Linked DNA regions of Homo sapiens: region 2 is linked to region 1. Evidence: fine-mapped expression QTL. A gene starts in region 1. The other region holds a variant in brackets. All regions are shown on one strand. Distances are from middle to middle. Region 1 holds the start of KCNA6-AS1 (KCNA6 antisense RNA 1). Region 2 overlaps KCNA6-AS1 (KCNA6 antisense RNA 1).

Evidence for each region.
Region 2: its variant is fine-mapped to the expression of KCNA6-AS1 in aorta (GTEx, PIP above 0.99).

The regions. Positions count from the first base shown.
Region 1 is chr12:4,828,458-4,833,837 of GRCh38, reverse strand. KCNA6-AS1 (KCNA6 antisense RNA 1) reads left to right here and starts at 3,067. Exons shown (of 3, transcript NR_199077.1): 1 at 3,067-3,408. It also overlaps a transcript of KCNA6 not described here. RefSeq lists enhancers at 3,088-3,589, 4,019-4,178, 4,239-4,428.
Region 2 is chr12:4,799,448-4,804,827 of GRCh38, reverse strand. KCNA6-AS1 (KCNA6 antisense RNA 1) reads left to right here. Exons shown (of 3, transcript NR_199077.1): 3 at 1-343. Among named protein-coding and RNA genes, the nearest start is that of KCNA6, 7.2 kb to the left of the region's middle. The variant A/G (reference allele first, on the strand shown) is at 3,182.

The sequences.
Region 1 (5,380 bases):
TAATCCTAGCCGTTGGTCTATTCTGGTTAGGACAGCCCCGCCCTAACCACAGCCTAAGGAAAGGCTCATAGGAGACAGCTGGGGAAGTTTTCCTCATCCTTAGGCTCAACCCTTCCTGCCTTCACACACTGTTGTGTGAGGACATGATGCTTGGAACTGCTGCTGCCATCTGTGAGCATGAGGCAAAAAGCCAAGCAAGTCCTAAGAACAGACTTCTTCAAGCCCTAACATCATTGGCTATGGCAGACCCACTACAAAAAATGCTTCCAATGCTCCACCTGCCCTTGGCAATGTGACCTTGAAGCTCCTCCCACGAAGAGGCAGAGTCTATTTCCTCATTACTGAGTCTTAGTCAACAGCACTGCAGCAGAAGTGACTGCACCAACTCCAAATCTCGTCTCAAGAGGGATACTCCAGGCTGCCCTGCTAGAGACATGGGAGCAACATGGGCAGGATACTGAGGCTCCCTGGCCAACAGCCACACAACCCCCAGCAGCACCACCTGATCAACCTAGAGATGACCACAGATGCATGAGGGATCACAGATGCATGAGGAAGCACAGGTGAGACCAGAAGAGCTGCCCAGCTGAGCCCAGCCAAAATTGCTGACCTGCTTGAATTGGGAGCTATAAAGTAATGGTGGTGTTTCAAACTTTTCGGTTTTTAATTGGTTAGCTATGTCACAATAGCTAACTGATGCATTACGAATCCTGAAGCTGTCCTTCCTCAAGACTCCATTTCATATGAGATAAAAAATATTCTCTTTTTTTAATGCCACTGTTACATGCAGCCTATAGTTCCCTGATATTGTGCTCTGAGGAATAAAAACGATGAGACAGGGCCCTGCCTTCAAGAAAATGGCAGCCCAACTACACTTAAGACGTATTTTCAACTAGGTTGTTGACCCCCCTGAGGTGAGGGTTTGGTGGCACATGTATCTCTAGAAAGGACTCTTACAGTCTAAAAATGTACAGCAACACAAGGTAACCTCTGCTGAGTGCAAAAGGAGTGGTCCAGTCCACATAAAGACTTCATGAAGAGCTGGATATGAGCTAGGTGGTCTTTGAAGGAGATTTAGGATTTCGAGTCATGAGGAGAGAGGGAGGGTTGAGAGAGGCAGGACCCTCTCTGGGTCTAGAAAGATGGATATTCCATAGGGATTTGTTCTGGAGACAGGTGAGTGACTAGGAATTGAATTCTGATGTGGTGATTTAGGGCATGAAGCACATAACAAGGACAAAACAGTGTCTCAATGCAGGCCTGCAAATGTTCATTCTATGAGGTGAAGAATGAACAGAGGGGCCAGAGGTACAAGCCAATGTCCTCTGCAGCCACCCTCAAAAGAGTATCAAAAAGCGTATTGTCTCAGGAGTATCAGGCCACCGCCCCATAACCTCAGATGTGACCAGGCCTGAAGGATCTCCTTCTACCTGTGCGTCCCTGCACCTCTCACTTTATCTTACCCAGTGGGCGCACTGCCGCTGGGGTGGGGTCACAGAGGAGGCCTTGAATCAATGCTGGGTTGTAGGTTGAACAAACTTCACAAGACTAGAAAATAAGTAATAGAGAGGTACTTGTTTTTTTCACATTGCCAGAGTCTCACATTTCCCTCTCTGTCTGAGTTTTCCCAAGCCCACAAGGGATGGTCGTGGGCTGACTGATGACACCCAGGCTCTCGGGGTCTGAAGAAAAGCAAAAGAAAGGCCCCTGTTCTCTGGTCCCAACCACAAACATGAGGGCACTAAATAATTCCACAACTACACCATCTTCAGAATCAGAGCACTAGGAAGGAGAGAGCTATTACTCATTTTGACCAGGAAGCCTTGTTTTATTTAGCAATGAGTATTTGCTAAGCGTATCTTCTACTCAATAGAACACCCTCACCATGTTTCTGTGAGACCAGAGTGATCCCCATTTTATACTGGAGGAACACAAGGTGTATGAGAAATGTGCCCAAGATCTCAATACTAGTGACTCGGAGAGCCAGGGTTTGAGCCCAGATCAGTCTGATACTGAGACCTGTGCTCTCTCTGTATATAGTATGCAAGAACTATCATTTCTTCAAAGTCTGAGCTGAATGGAAGCTCTCATAAGAGATTATTTTCAGAAGCTCCGTGTCTTAGCCAAGGGAGTAAGTGAATTAACACACTGGACTCCAAAATCCAGCTCTGTTATAAAGTAGTCATAGTAGCCACGTGGCCTTGGGCCAATCAAGTCATCACTCAGGACCCCAATTCTTTTTGGCATTTACAAAAGGAGAAAGCGGAGCTGGAGGATGGATCCGACCCCTTCCAGCTCCCATGGCTGGGAGGTTTTCCATCTCTCCCATAGAGAGGCTAGCCCAGACTGAACCAGAACGTTTTTTTCCTGACTAACGGTTTCTAGGAAAGAGGCTCATGCTGGCTGGCTCTCAGGCTCAACCCTGGTCCAATCCACTGTCAGCAGGACGGGGTCAAGCAGGTACTAACTTGGCTGGCTGCTTGTGGGTGATAACGAGTTATTGTGAAGGACTCTTGGGCCCTCTGATAGCTGCCTGACAATGCCCAACCAGAACAGTAAAGATCCACCAAGCCAGCCGCTCCGGGCCACATGCAACTTCAAGGACCACTTTGTGCATCTGCACCAAGGCTCCCTCTGTTTTGAGAAAGGAGAGCTCGTCGGTCCCATATTCCTCCGCAGTCCTTGCAAATCCTCTCACCTGGCAGGAAAGCCACTTAGGGTTGTTGTATAAGAGGAGGAGGCACAGCGGAGACCAGCTTTGTTGGCAGAGAGCTTACCTTTCCTGAAAGTCAGCGCTGAAAGATCAAAAGTCACTGAGGACCCTGCTGACTCCCCCACACCAACTCACAAAACCAACAACCCGTGGTGGGCAGGGCCTGAGAGAGGAAAGTGAACGATATCCTGCAAAAGTCTGCTAGGGGGTGGCTTCGTCTCAGTTGCAAGGCTGCTGAATAGGTAGGTAGGTAAAGGCCATGGGGAGAATCAGCATTTGGAACTCTTCCCTGGGTGCAGCGCCCCTGCCCGCATTGCCTGCAAGGCAAACCCCGCCTTCTCCCGCAGCCTCCCACTCCGCCCAAGCAGCCCAGGGACAGAGGCTGCAGGATTCTGACACAGGAAGTCTACAGTCACTGGGAGCCTCTCCAAGATACAGCCTGTGTGAAGGAAAAGGTCTGGACAAGGAGAGGAACAGTAAAGAGAAACAAAAGTCCTCGGTTTGAATGAGGAGAGATTTTGAGCCCGCAGCGGGTTGCGGGGTGGAGGATGGCGGAAGGGGCAGATGCCGTTACCGGGTTCTGTTTCTCTTTCGCTGGCCACCTTGTTAAGCTCCCATTGGCCAGGTGTCCGGAGTGGGACTCACCACTGCAGGGGGCTCCAGCCCCACACAGCCGCCTCCCAGGAAGGACTCAGGTGGGCTTTCAGGTTATCCGCGGTGGGATGCAGGGGTGAAGGAAGCTTTGGTGGTGGATGTGAGAATTTGGGATGGGGGTGTGGAACTTTACTGGCTCCTGCCATGCAGCGTGCACAGTGCTTTCTGCAGGATGGCATCGAAGGGGCTGGAGCTGGGGGGCAGCACGTCTCTGTCCTCAGACCACGGTGGAGGATGTGGACTGTCCAGGCTCCAAGCTGTCCATCCCTCAGTGCCATGACCTAACCGTTAAGTGGGATGGAGCATGGGAGGGGAACGCAACTGCACCTTTCAGAGAGAGGCCCTCTGAGCAGGAAGAGTGGCTGCAGTAGAAAAGATGTGGCTGAGAAGGGGAAGAAAGAGCCTCGCGAGCATCAGCACTAGGAGAGGCAATTGATTTCATCCTGTGAGTCTCAGGGGAGTGGAGGCTGCCCCTTCCAAAAGAACTGGCAGGACTGGCCATGAGCCAAGTAGGGAACAGCTGCTGCTGACTGAGGGAGAAGCTGTGCAGCCTCGGGCAATTCAGTCAACCTCTCTCGGCCAAGGACAATATAATAATGCCTGCTTTACTGACCTTAGTGAATTGTTACGATGTTCAATGGTGAAAGAGAGTTGTAAAATGTGAAGTGCAATTAAATGTATAGGTGCGATATTATCAGCAGAACTTCTTGGGCTGGAGGTACCCAACTATGGCTGCACACAAGAACCTCTAGAGACTTTTTTTTTTTTAAATCCTGAACTTGGAAACCACCCTAGATCAGTTATTCAAATTAGGGCAGGCAGTGAGCAGAAGGACAGGAAGTGGTACTTTTTTCAAAAGAATCTGGTGATGCTGATATCCTATGAAGGTTGAGACCTGCTACCTAAGACTTCCCCAAAATCCATGAAGGTGATCACTCAGAGCACATGTTTTTTAAAAAGGCATATTCTCAGGCTTCTCCCAGATCTTCTGAATCAAAATTTCAAGGGGTCCTGGCAACCTCTATATTTAGCGAGCAATAAGAGCAATGTGGACACGTTATGCCAGTGAAAAGTTTGTCGATTAGCTCCTTTTCTACTGGATAATCATATCCAGCAATGCTTCTGGACAGCACAGGCAAATCAGCTCAAGGAGGGGAAGCACCCTCCTCAGACGGTAAGTACAGACATGCTTTGGGGGGATGGGGTTACAGTAGACAGCCAAATCCCATCCTATTCCTGCTCCACCGGGGTGAAACTCCAATTATAAAATGACACATTTCCCAGCCAACGTGCCTGGGAACCTTAAGATAAAAAGGAAACGATGATGAGTTATCTATAACTAACAGCATCAATTATGAGTGCTTTATTGTGTCAATAGATTGTTCAGGCTTTCTTGCTTCACACACTGCGGACTCTGTTCCATTCATAAAATTATACAAACACTTGCATATCCATGCACATGCACTCACAAACACAGAGACCCCAAGCTCGTCAAACACACAAATGGGAGGACGAAGAGGATGACAGGAGCCGGTGAACTCTTATCAGGCAACTGCATTACTCCGTTCTAGCATTATTTGCAGGATTCCATGCTACATTAGCGATGTTCCCAGGTAACAGGACCCCAGGGATTCTTCATTTTAGCTCTTTCATCCCACAGGGGCAACACTAGTTTAGCAGATAAGAGCACGACTCTGGAGCCAGACTGCCCAGGCTGAAATCCTACCACCCCACTTACTGGCTGTGTGTGACTCTGGGCAAGCTACTTCTGTGAAATGGAGATAATAACGGGGCAACTGGGACGATTAAATGCGCTGGTACACATAAGCCCTTAGAGACATGCCTGGCAAACAAGATGCTATGTGAGTGTCCGCTGCTATCAGTGATTGTTGTTTCTGTTGTTGTTTTACTATAGGTGAGAAAGGTGATACCTAGAAAATTAATTGCTCACTTTGTTTACATCTCTTGACTCTTTTAGGAGTATAGCCAAGGAAGGAGTCATAAATGTGAACA
Region 2 (5,380 bases), 29 kb after region 1:
TCAGGAGGAAGGGCAGCCAGCATAGGAGGCTGAGGGGTTGTAGGTGAAGTCAAAGGAAAGCCAAGAGATGGAGAGCTCCTGGAAACCAACAACCAGGACTAGACCCCAGGGGCCCCATCCTCCTGGGCCCACGCTGGCCTTCCAGTGGAACACATGATCTGCAACAGGTCAGGAGTACGTGGGGGGCATCCATGGGAAGAACCACCTAAGAATGGACGTATGTGCCCACAAGATGAGCACAGATAATGTGAAGCATTGTGTGATAACCATTTATATTCTGACCTCTGCCCTAGGTTCTAAAATGTACCTATTCCAGGTATATAAATGACATAAATGATCTGTCTTCCAGGCTTCTTTACATTTTTATTTTGCTGTGTGTGTGTGTGTGTGTGTGTGCACTTGTCATCATTCTGGTAATACGATCCCTGAAGTTTTCCTCTTTCTCTGTGTAACCTCTGAAAATGGTTCTCCTCATGGTCCTGTCACCCACAGGCCCCTGCTCTGAGGACAGGGTGGCGAGTCGTCAGCTCCCTTACCTCTTACTGAGAGAACACAACACTTGTGCACAAGCACGGAACACCCTCCCTAGAATGACCCACCCCACTCTTGAGCTTTCCACTGTGGAATCCAAACCACTCAGAGCCAGTGAGAAGCAGGGGTGATGAGTCTGAGCCCGTGTCCCTCCTCTCACCATCTCACTCTGGGCAAGGCTCTGCCCTCGAGCTTTGGTTCTTCAGCGTGTTCCAAGTGGAAGCTCCTCTGTCCAAACACAGCGTTCTGCCTGGCCCAACTCCCTTCTCTGGTCCCCTCATTCACCCCTTTCCCCAGGGTCTGGGTCATGTTTACTCCTTCTCTTAACCTTCTCCTACTTTTTCTGCTGGAGAGAGAAGACAGCATTGAATCCTGGGGAAGAAGGGGAGAAAAATGGATGACCGGGTAATTCTATACTTTGCAGTCAATTTTTGCTGTTTTCCTTTTGTTCCCCTCCTTCTACACACACACACACACACACACACACACACACCAAAAATTTGGTCATCTGAGAGTTACATTAAAAAGAAGTCAGATATCTTGAACTTCGAGGGTTAATTTCCTGCAGTAGCACCCACTGGTTCCACAAACTCATTGATGTTCCCTGCCAACACTTGATAGCACAACGCTTTGACCTGAAGTTCCCTTCTATTCATTTCGTCTCTGGATGCACTGTGGCCATTTCCCTCCTCCTGGGCTTCCCCTGTGGCCAAGTGGATGGAGTCAGGGGGACAAATGAAAACACATGTGCTATACAAAAGCACTATTTATAATTAGCTGCTTAGTCCAATTTTTAATGAGGACGATGATGTCAGTTACAAAGTAGTGATGGTGATGATGATGTTCCATAATTCAGTAGAGAAAAATCTAACAGCTTTCGCTTGGGTGAAGCTGTATATTAGAAAAGAAATGCATTAGACATCTGTGCCACACCAATCAACAGCCTCAGGAAATTACTATCCATGCCAAGAAATAAATCTATAACGAACTCCTTATCCTTTCGGGGAGGATCCCAAGAGAGCTTGTTAGTATCCTAAGTTTGCAGCCTACATCTTCATCCAATTCTCCTCCTGTGATAGTCATTAATGCTGTTTTCCAAATGTCTCCAGCTCTCTACTTTTCAGGAACATGGAGAATTTTACTGTCTCACTCACTTGTGGCTGTGTGGTACCAGGCAAGTAGTTCTGGACAGTGAGTTATAAGCAGAAGTGGTATGTGTCACTTCTGAACCAAAATATTTAATTCCTCATGGGAAAGCCCCCAGAGCTTTCTTCACGCCAGCCACAATGACCAGCTTTGTTCAAGATGGTGGCTGCTCTGTCAGAGTGAGCTGCATTACAGGGTAAGGTGGCAGGAAGCTTGGCCCCCAGCCGAAGCAATAGTAGCATAAGTGAGAAACAAACCCTTATTGCTCTAATCCTCTGGTATTCAGGGATTGATTTCTTCCCATAGCAGAATCAAGTCTACCCAAACTGAAGTAAGAAGCTGCCAAAAGTAAAAAGTTAAAACCTGTGACATGGCCAGGCATGGTGGCTCACACCTGTAATCCCAGCACTTTGGGAGGCCGTGGTGGGCAGATCACAAGGTCAAGAGATCGAGACTATCCCAGCCAACATGGTGAAACCCAATTTCTAAAAATACAAAAATTAGCTGGGTGTGGTGGTACACACTTGTTGTCCCAGCTACACAGGAGGCTAAGGCAGGAGAATCGCTTGAACCTGGGAGGCGGAGGTTGCAGTGAGCTGAGATTGCACCACGGCACTCCAGCCTGGCAACAGAGTGAGACTCCGTCTCAAAAAAATAAATAAATAAAATTTTAAAAATTAAAAAAATACTTGTGACATTGGTTCTGTGGCCAGATGACAGGTATTGAAGAAATTTTATAGGAGGCCATTGCAGGCAATCCATGTTACAAATGGAAAAATATTCTGAAAACTGTCATCTGTGATAACTTAGAAAGCAGATTATATCCCTAAAATCCTGCATATCTAGGAAGATGGTTGAAAAACAGCTTGTTATATTGTATGGTGGCCACTGCTGGCTGCATCTGACAATGTAGTGCAAGATATTGATGAGTTCAGAAAAGATTTGGCCAGAAAGCAGAGATGAAATGGACAGGAGAGAGTCCAGAAATGTGGGGATTTTCAGTGTAGACAGAGACAGCTGCTTCTCATTCCCCAAAGAAGTAAACAAAACTTAAAAGACCTTTATACAAGAAAGACTGATGAGTGCTTCAGCTCATGCCATGGAACAAATCAAGCACAGGGCAGTCATGTCCATTGTCAGTTCCTCTGAATGGAATAAGTCATTTAGGGCAAAAGTTTAATTGAAGTTATGGCTTCAAAAAATCATTCAAACTGGGCAAACTGGCTCAAGTAAGAGCGAGAGAAAAAACAAGACTAAAGCTGTAACATCCCACAAATAATATATATACCCAAATTATTGCTGTTAGGTTCAAGTTGAGAAGAACCATGGCTCCCCCAGGCAAAATACACTTACCTACTCCCTAAGGAAGATAACCCCAAAGTCCTACCCAGTCCTGGTATCAAGCTGAAATGCTAGGTTCTCTAGCAGTGCGTAGTAGTTTTTATATTAAGGAGTGACATGTGCTAGTCTCTACATCAGTTTTGAATATGGATTTCTGCAATTC[A/G]GAGACTTAAAAACCCAAAAGACAAATTATCTGCCTCTATCCCATAGCACGACATACAATGGCTCCTTTAGAATAGGATAACAACTGTAACCATAGGTGTGGTTATTGGCTATCAGTACATAGATCTGCCCGAAACACATAGGAAAAAGCCTAAGAAGATTTTCAGACAGTCATCCTGCCAAAGGAACCATGACCTGAACGAAACCATTCACGACTTTTCAAAATGTAATGTACCGTTGGGCCCCTAAATTATCATGGACAAGAAGCCGGCCAAGAAAGCTGCTCAATATCATCTGCAATTCCCATCTCTGATAGGAGCAAGGAGGGCAACAGAAAGAAGACCCTCCAGAGGGACAATCCATAAGCAGAGAACGGTGGGCTGGGATCTACTCCCAGGCAGCTAAGTGAGGGTCGAATTGTGTTTCACAGGATTTCAGAGTCGTTATGGACCAGTGACTGCTGTGCTTCCCTAGTCTTCCCCCTTTCTGAATGAGAATATTGATTGCAGTTGTCCTACTTCAAATGAATCTTTTCTTGTCTTGTGGGAAAGAAACGATTACTTATCTTTTTGGAGCCTAAGTCTCAGAAAGGAAAGGATCCACATTCACACCTGATGTGGAGACTAGAACATGCCGCTCCCTAAGGTGAAAACTGCCCTGTTACACACCACAAGAGACCCTAGCATTTCAGCTTGATACCAGGACTGGGTAGGACTTTTAGGCTGTCTTCCTTAGGCAGTAAGTAAGTGGATTTTGCCTGGGGGAGACAAACATTTTGTGACCCTAATGGCAGGCAATGGTAGTCATTGCTGCTATTTGACAAACATTTCCAGCTTGTTCACCTCCTGGGTACATGGTAAGATTGTGTCTTTCTTGGTTTTCATGTGATTGAGTGAGAGTCATGTGACTAGTTCTAGCTGATAAGTTGTGCCATGTGTCATATCTGGCCTGCAGCACTTAATTGCCAATGCTCTCTTCCTCTGCCATAATGATCCATAGCACTTGAGAAGGTAGCAACCCCATCAGCCTACAACCCAGATTGAAAGACATAGACCAGAACCCTAGGAATGCCAGGGATGGCTATGTAGTCTGAGCAGTAAATAGTCCTTTGCTATAATCCACTAAGCTTTGTGGGCTGTTTGTTACTGCAGCATAACCCTGTCTCTCCTGACCAATATGCCTACTTGCATTCCTGCTTGGAAGATAAATACAATACAGAGATCATTAATATTCTATTTTCTATGCCTAGAAGAAGAGAATTGAACATGGATCATGAAATTAATTTCAAAAGCCTAACTTTGGCCAACTTTTTCATTCTTACTATTGCTTACTTCTCCTCCTACCACAGCTTTCTACAGAGATCTTCACTTTGTTTATATTAAACTGGTCTGAATTTTTGCTCTTCCTTGTCCATTTTCTGACCTAACTCTACCACTGAAATGATAGCAACCTGTTGTCTAACTCTGGTGTCCTATCTGCATCTCCAATGGGGTCATGGACAGTAGCTAAGTCTTTATGATAAAATGTTGTAACTTTCTTCTGTTTACTAACTTTTCAATAAATATTGACTAAAGATAGTAATAGCTAATGATAAGCATTTTTTGAATGCATACTGCATTCCAAGCACTTTGCTAAGAGGTATGAGGTAGAAGCTTTTCCTAGCCTCCTTTTAAAAATGAGAAAACAGAAGGACAGGAAGTTTAATTTACCAGCTCACAGAGCTAGTGGGTACCTGAGCAGGCTTCAAATGCAGCCATTCTACAAAAAAAAAAAAAATTGTTTTAAGTTATCCAGGCATGGTGGCACATGCCTGTAGTCCCACCCTGGGAAACTGAGGCAGGAGGATGACTTGAACCGAGGAGTTGGAGGCTGCAGTGGGGCTATGATCATGCCACTATACCCTAGCCTGGGTGACACGGTGAGACCCTTCAAAAAATGCGCTCAGTCTTGAGTCCAGAGCCCATGTGGGGAGCTCTCTTTCTTCATGTTCCCAAACTGTGTTCTACACAATTCTAGTTCTCACCATGTTGATAGATATTTACACAGACAAGGCACTCCACCCTGTAGCCTTGTGGTTAGGATTCCAAACTGCCGTGATCTGGGTTCCACTCCCGATCAAAGAACCAGCCACCTAGAGATGTAAATTCTTTAACTCAGAAGAAAAAGAAATTAGTTTGATAAAAAATTGATTTGATATTTA